Homo sapiens: one gene and its partner. The protein of the gene in region 2 interacts with the protein of the main gene of each other region in a biochemical or structural test. Each region holds a gene or a part of one and is shown on either strand. Other genes may lie near its edges. The genes, in order: TACR1 and TAC4.

What was found.
Region 1: the proteins of TAC4 (region 2) and TACR1 form a complex in vitro, tested with the Homo sapiens proteins (one study listed by BioGRID).

Annotation. Positions count from the first base shown.
Region 1 is NC_000002.12:75,052,640-75,056,767, forward strand, and holds part of TACR1 (substance-P receptor), read right to left. Parts: intron 1,117-4,128; coding exon 966-1,116; intron 1-965. UniProt on the Homo sapiens protein: This is a receptor for the tachykinin neuropeptide substance P. It is probably associated with G proteins that activate a phosphatidylinositol-calcium second messenger system.
Region 2 is NC_000017.11:49,841,470-49,845,069, forward strand, and holds part of TAC4 (tachykinin-4 isoform alpha-2 precursor), read right to left. Parts: intron 2,689-3,600; coding exon 2,595-2,688; intron 116-2,594; coding exon 83-115; intron 1-82. UniProt on the Homo sapiens protein: Tachykinins are active peptides which excite neurons, evoke behavioral responses, are potent vasodilators and secretagogues, and contract (directly or indirectly) many smooth muscles.

The DNA of each region.
Region 1 (4,128 bases), on a different chromosome or scaffold from region 2:
GTGTATTTACTATTTGTGTAAAAAAGAAGAGAAAATAATATATATTTACTTATTTATAAGTGCCAATAGCTAGAAGGGTTAAGAAACAGATAACAATGGTTACCATTGTATGCATATCTGTGTGTGTGTGTGCGTGTGTGTGTGCAAGCTTGGGACCTGGGTAGATGACAGATCTAGAAGGGAGAGAGGCTTTCCATGATAAGAATTAAATTTTTTTAAATGTTTCGTTTTGAACTAATTGAAGGCCCTCGAGAAGTTGCAAAGGTGGTGCAAAGCAGTTCCAGGTAGTCTTCACCTAGCCTCCTCCAATGATATCATCTTACATAACCATACCACATTATCAAAACCAGGACACTGACCATTCATCAAACTACTGACTATATTTGGGTTTTTGCCAGTTTTTACATGCACTGTTTTTTTTGGTGTATAGATTTATGAAATTTCATCACAGGTATAGATGAAAACACCACCACAGTCAGGATACAGAGCTGCTCCATCACTGCAAAGAAACTCACTCACGCTCTCGCTTTGTAGGCCACTCCTCCCAAGCCCCCTCAAACACTGACTCCTGGAAACCCCTGATCCGTTCTTCATCACTATAATTTTGTTCCTTTGAATGCCTTTTGATGTTTGAACCACGTGAATGTATTATCTTGTCAAACTTTAAGAAGAGGACCAAATCACTCTTCACTGATCTTTTATTTAAGTGTGCGTGTGTGTGTGTGTGTTTTAATGGATCAAGAGGTTGCAATTACTCTTTAAGAGCAAGCGAAGTGGCTCATGCCTGTCCAGCCAGATCTGGGTTCCAAAGACACTGAAGAAAGATTCCTCTCCTCCTCTCTGTTGCTCCCCATACCTGGGGATATTTTGTGCTAGCTGCCTCTGGGGCTCACAAGTGTGCCATCCCTTCTCGACAGCCTGTTGTCTGTGCCAGGGTGGGTTAGTTCTGCCTGTCCCCTGCTCACCTTGCGCTTGGCAGAGACTTGCTCGTGGTAGCGGTCAGAGGAGTCCCCGGGGATCTCACTGGCCCATAGTGTGATTCCCACTACGGTGTATGCATAGCCAATCACCAGCAGGGGGAGGAAGTAGATCAGCACAGTCACACAGATGTGGTACCTACAGCAAGGTAAACAGGAAAGGTCAGTATGATATACTTATTATTTTAGGTTTTTAATTTTTGTTATTGTTATTGCAGTCAAGGTTTGGCAGCTACCTTTCTCAGCATATGCCATTAATAAGCTTGGGCTGTAAAGCCCACTCCAGGGAGACTTGTCACCTGCATAGGGTGGATAGGTAATACTAATGAATACACTACAGAAAACAATTTATGTTTTTCTTGTGGACTTTTTCCATAATGAATACTCCTGTTCAGATTAAAAAAAAAGAAAACATTGATGACAGGGCACTGAATCTGTTGTATACCCATAGCGATTTCAGTTGATGATCAGTTCAATATCACTTGCCCCACACCACCCCCCAAAACAAGAATGCAAACTCAGGCTACATTAATAGAAGTATAGTCTCTGAATGAAGGAAGTAATTATACCACTCAATTCATACCCGCCAGACTACACTTATGCTCAACTTAGTGCAGGGTTGTAGACCAACTAGTACGTTCAGTTGAGAACTACCATGATGGTTGATAAGGCCCAGTTTATGCTATGTGATAAGTGAATTTATCGGTATCAGAATAATTAGCCTGAATGAGAGAGATAAGAGTAATCCTAGAACTAGAATTAGTGGGTGGGTGAAAGCCACATAGCATAAGCCATTTCTAAGACTGGGCTTTAAGAATATATCTTCAGATAGAAGCTGCCTGGGTCCCTGAATTACCCATTGGAGGACAGGTGCCAACTGACTCACGTTTGACTGGGACATGAGCAAGAAATAAACCTTTGTGGTGTTAAGCCACTGAGATATTGAGGTTTGTTACAGCAGCACAATTTATCCTTTTCTGTTAAAGGGAAGGCTCCTTTTCAGACTTAAATAAGGTTTTTGAATTTTGGGAAAATATATTTTTCTTGGGGGTTTGGGGGTCCTTGGTTTGTCTGGTTAGTTACAGCCCTTTTCTTAGATGTGAGTATAATGGAGATACTCAGAATTCCTAATAATAATAATAATAATACTAGGAAGAACAGCTAATGTTTGGGGGCACTTACTCTAGGTCACTGTGCTAATAATAATGCTAATGATAGTATTAATAGCAGAAATGGTAGTTAAATTTGAGTGTTGATGAAAAGCACAAAGCCAAGCATTTTACTAGCATTATCTTATTTAATCCTTAAGCAAATGATTGGGTAGGTACTATGAATCCCATTTTGTAGACGAGGAAACCACATTTAGAATTTAATTAATTTTCCCAAATTCACAGCTGGTAAAGGGAGGAGCTGAGATTAGAATCCAGGTCTGTGATGTCAGAAAACCAGCCTTTTGTCAATGGAGAAAAGCCACCCAATGATTTTTTTCTTCCCCTCTGTTTACCATTCATGATTATTTTATGCAATGATTTTCTTCCAATGAGGAAAACCCACTTATTCACTCAATTTCTCCTTTGTAGATACTGTTTGCTTTTAATCACTTCTTTGTAAAGCCCCACAGTTTTTGCTACTTATTCAGTCCCTCTGCATATCAAATTTGCATTTGAAGATACTCAAAGACTGCTTAAGTGACAAATCACAGATTGCACCAAGCAGGGTGTGAGTGCATGTGTTCTGTGCAGACAGGCTGCTCCAGTCTCACCTGGCTTTCAAAGCCCTCTGAATTGTCGCCTCCTTTGGGAGCCTCAGGGCTCTCCAACCACTATGGCAGGGACAGCATATTGTGTTTCCTAGCTGATCTCAGTCCCTCCTGGTTGCTGTAATGGCATTGCTTGTAAGCAAAATGTTTGGAGACTACAGGGGCAGGGAGAACTTGAAAACCTCCAAATTGCACTGACTTCTCCTACCTGAAAGAACAGCCCTGCCTCATGCAGACTAATAGTTTGTGACCAAAACATGTTAGCTGAGCTTTGCCGAGACATTGCTACAGGGCACTGAGCAAGATTGGGTCTGAGTGTGATGGGAGGGACACTATGGTCAACTCGCCGATACTCCTTACCCTGGACCAGTGGCCCTCAAACTCGAGTGGGCTTCAGTATCACCTGGAGGGCTTCGACAACCCCACAGGGCTGGGTCCCACCCAGAGTTTCAGACTCAGCAGGGCTGGGGTGGGCCTGAGAATTTGCATTTCTAACAAGTTCTCAAGAGATGCCGATGTTGCTGTTTGTGGTTCAGACTTTGAGAAACATTGTCTTAGGCCAACGGTTCTCAACCGCAAATGTAAAAGAGAATCACCAGGGAAACTTTTAAAATGATCAGTGCCCAAAGGTATTCATTCAATTGACTTGAGGTTGGGAGCAGGAAATTACATTTTAGAAACTTCCCCCAAGTTACTGTAATAGACATCTAGCACTGAGAACTGTTTCAGACCTTAGGTATGCAAGTCTATTGGGACTCCATTGTTGTCCGTGATTTAATGACTTTATTCAAGTGTGTATTAACTGTGTTTTCTGGTTCTGTATCTGATACTTTGGCATCTGGGTCCCTGCAGCTCAGGGAGGGACTGTTTCAGGCAGAGCTAATTCCTTTGGAAAACAAACAACTTTCCACTTGGATGCCTTTCATATGCAAACTAACCGAAACAAAGCCCATACTTCCACTTGCTTGCTTTCTTGGGCTCTTACAGGGTAGGACACTATTTTCCCGCCCTAATCACCCAACGGCAGGCATCAGACAACTAGGGGCAGCTCCTACACCCCGGAGCCTGCCGAAGTTATTCAAACCAGCCAATCTTAAACCTGTTTACCCGGCCTTGCCTGCTCCTTCCTGAGAAAACCCCAATAAAGGCTTTCCTGTGTGGCTTGGCTTGGTGTGGGGCCATGGCCCTTCAGCTTGGGAACTGTGAGTAATAAAGTGTCTTTCAGTGGTAACCATGTCCTGATCTGTTGGCCACACCATACCTGAATACAAAATACAATCTGCTCTTTCCCTTTGTGAAATCACAGATCAGATCATTATGAACATGCAAAGATAAATACGTAAACATAATTTATCAGCCTTTAAAAAATCCCTCCCTTTTTAAAGAAGCAAA
Region 2 (3,600 bases):
TCACCCACCTGGTTTGTTTGTGCTGAGGACAACTCAGCCCTCCCTAGGGGGCATGTTGAAGGCAGGTTTGGGCAATACTTACCTTTTTTTCTCCTTGGCTGGATCAGAGGTCTTCCTGGGGGAAGGAGAAGGAATGAGGACTACGGACTGCACTGCTTCCCTGGGGGCTTGGTGAGGTGGAAAAGGCTCCAGTTCTTTGAGGGTTGGTGCATTGGTGGGTCTTCAGTAGAATTCTAGTCATCCCCAGTTATCCTCTGTGGCAGTAGGAATGTGCTGGTAGGGGGCAGTGTGGAGTGGCTGGAAGTGCACAGACTTTGGGGTCACTGGCACCTGGTGCCAGCTGGGTGGGCATCCTTGGGAAAAGTGCTTAACCTATCTGAGCCTTAGTTTCCCCGCTTGTGATAAGGGGGATATTATTGTGGAGATTTAATCTTTTTTTTTTTTTTTTTTTTTTTTGAGAGTCTCACTCTGTCGCCCAGGCTGGAGTGCAGTGGTGCGATCTCGGCTCACTGCAAGCTCCGCCTCCCAGGTTCACGCCATTCTCCTGCCTCAGCCTCCCGAGTAGCCAGGACTACAGGCGCCCGCCACCACGCCCGGCTAATTTTTTTGTATTTTTAGTAGAGATGGGGTTTCACCACATTAGCCAGGATGGTCTCGATCTCCTGACCTCATGATCTTCCCACCTCAGCCTCATAGTAGGTGCTCAAGAAGTATTTTCTCTGACATTCCCATCCCCCATCCTTCATGAGTTGTTGGATTTGGAAAAGAAGTTTGAAATGGGCCGGGCGCGTTGGCTCACACCTGTAATCCCAGCACTTTGGGAGTCTGAGGTGGGCGAATCACGAGGTCAGGAATTCGAGACCAGCCCGGCCAACATAGTGAAACCCCATCTCTACTAAAAATACAAAAAATTAGCCAGGCATGGTGGCTGATGCCTGTAATCTCAACTACTTGGGAGGCTGAGGCAGGAGAATTGCTTGAACCCGGGAGGCAGAGGTTGTAGTGAGCTGAGATTGCGCCATTGCACTCCAGCCCGGGTGACAGTGTAAGACTCCATCTCAAAAAAAAAAAGAAGTTTGAAATGGCTCAGTTCAGAACTCATTTTGTAGAAGAGGAAACTAAGGCCAAAAGTGCTTGGTCACAAGTTGGTTTTCTCTATTTTTATATGTGTATTTTTTTTTTATTACAAAAGCAGTCCTTGAATACATCCACTATTTTGAAAAGGTTTGTACAAGTAAAATTTAAAGTCTCTCTTCCCTTTCTCCCCCCTCATCTCCACTTCTGTCCTTGAAGTAACCACTGTTTACAGTTTGATATTTATCCTTCTAGAACTTTCCCCATGCATTTGCATATCTGTGTGTATGTCGTTTTTTAAAAACAAGTAGGCTCCTCTTGAATATTGATCTGTAACATGCTTTTTCCCACTTAACCATGTATCTTGGAGATCTTTCCACATCTTTCTATGGGTCTGCCTCATTCTCTTTAATGGCCACAAGGGTTAAGGATACGTGTAATAGATTTTGACCATTCCCTGATTGATGGTGTTTATGTTATTTCCGAATTCTTGCTATTACAAGCATGTTGGCAGTGAATACCCTCAGGGCTCATGTAGTAACAGCATGTCTGCCTGAAAAGCGAGACTCTGGGTCAGAAAGGTAAGCACATTTCCAACTTGCCTGGATATTGCGAACGTGTCCTCCAAATAGACAGTGTAAAAGTGCCAGTTTTTTCACACCAAGCCAACACGGAGCATTACCACTTAAAAAATGTAATATTGACAATAAGAGAAAACTGCTCTGTGTGCAGAGTATTTTCTCCTGGTCCCCCAAGGACAGGACTCCTGAGTTGAAAGTGCCTTCAGGGAACACAGGTTTAAGTTAGTAATTTTGTTTCAGCCAAAGAAAATTGACTAGAAAGCTTGGCTTGTGGCTTTGCCCACATCCAGACTGGTCTCTAGCTTCACTGCCACTCCCCAGAGTCATCCAGAGCATGGAAGGCACCACTCAGGGTGCAGAGCCTGTGCCCCCACCCTTCAGGTGCCCGTGCTCCCCATTGTTGGGAACAGCCTTGTTTACACTTGTTGCCTGGCGTAATTACTAACACTCCCCAAAGTGTCCTGGTTGCATGCTAATTTCTTTTTTTGAGATGGAGTCTCGCTTTGTCGCCCAGGCTGGAGTGTAGTGGCATGATCTTGGCTCACTGCAACCTCTGCCTCCCAGGTTCAAGCAATTCTACTGCCTCAGCCTCCTGAGTAGCTGGGATTACAGGCACGTGCCACCATGTCTGTCTAATTTTTGTATTTTTAATAGAGATGGGGTTTCACCATGTTGGTCAGGCTGGTCTCAAACTCCTGACCTTAAGTGATGTACCCACCTCGGCCTGCCAAAGTGCTGGGATTACAGACATGAGCCACTGCCCCCCAGCCTGGATGATAATTCCTATGGACAGTCTGTGCCACCCCATCTCATGAGCGACCCCTACTGGACTGGAGTACCTGACCCCAGTTACTGGGCTTTGACTTAGGGCCTCTGCTTTATGTTGCAGAACCCACTCAGAACCCCTGCTTGCTGGGCTCCATTGTCATTGTCACTCACCTCCCACTCGCTTCCCCATCAGCCCAAAGAACTGGCTTGCCTTGCCCGTCTTCACCTCCTGCAGCTGGAGCTGAATGCTGGGGCCAGCGCCTTCCTGAAGAAGCAGAGAGTTAGTGTTAGAGTTGGGAGGTTGTCCAGCAGACGGGAGGCCAGCCTGGGCAATGGCAATCTCAGGAGTGACAGCTGGTGGTCAGCAGAGACTTGCTGTGCACTGGCACTGGGCACCTCAGCATATTTTACACAGTACTGCACATCTTTGTAATAATAGCTAACATTTCACCTACTATGTTCTGAGCACGTTGATCTAGTAACTAATTTAAACCTCACCAAAACACCAGGAAAACAGTACCCTAAGTACTGTTACTGTCATTTTACACATGAAAACACCGAGACACAGGTTAAAGAATTGTTCAGCTGGGCGCAGTGGCTCACACCTGTAATCCCGGCACTCTGGGAGGCCGAGATGGGTGGGTCGCTTGAGGTCAGGAGTTCGAGACCAGCCTGGCCAACATGGTGAAACCCCGTCTCTAATAAAAATACAAAAATTAGCTGGGCATGGTGGTAGACACCTGTAATCCCAGCTACTCAGGAGGCTGAGGCAGGAGAATTGCTTGAACCTGGGAGGCAGAGGCTGCAGTGAGCCAAGATCCTGCCCCTGCACTCCAGCCTAGGTGACAGAGCAAGACTCCATTTCAAAAAGAAAGAATTGTCCAAGGTCACCCAGCTGGGAAGTGAGAGGTGGAACCAGAAGTTGAACTCAGGCTCAAAGGCTGGTCTGAAACACTGCAGTCATAATCTCATTTAATCTTCACAACCACCATAACTAGTAGAAACTATGATTTCCCCCGGCCCCTGCATTTTACAGATGGAGAAACTGAGATGTAAGGAGGTTAAGTGACTTGTCCAAGGTCACACGGGAAGAGGCTGAGCCAAGATTCAAAGTCTGACTTCACAGTACTGGTTCTGCTCTATCATGGGAAGTGTCTCCAACATAGATGAGGAGAGG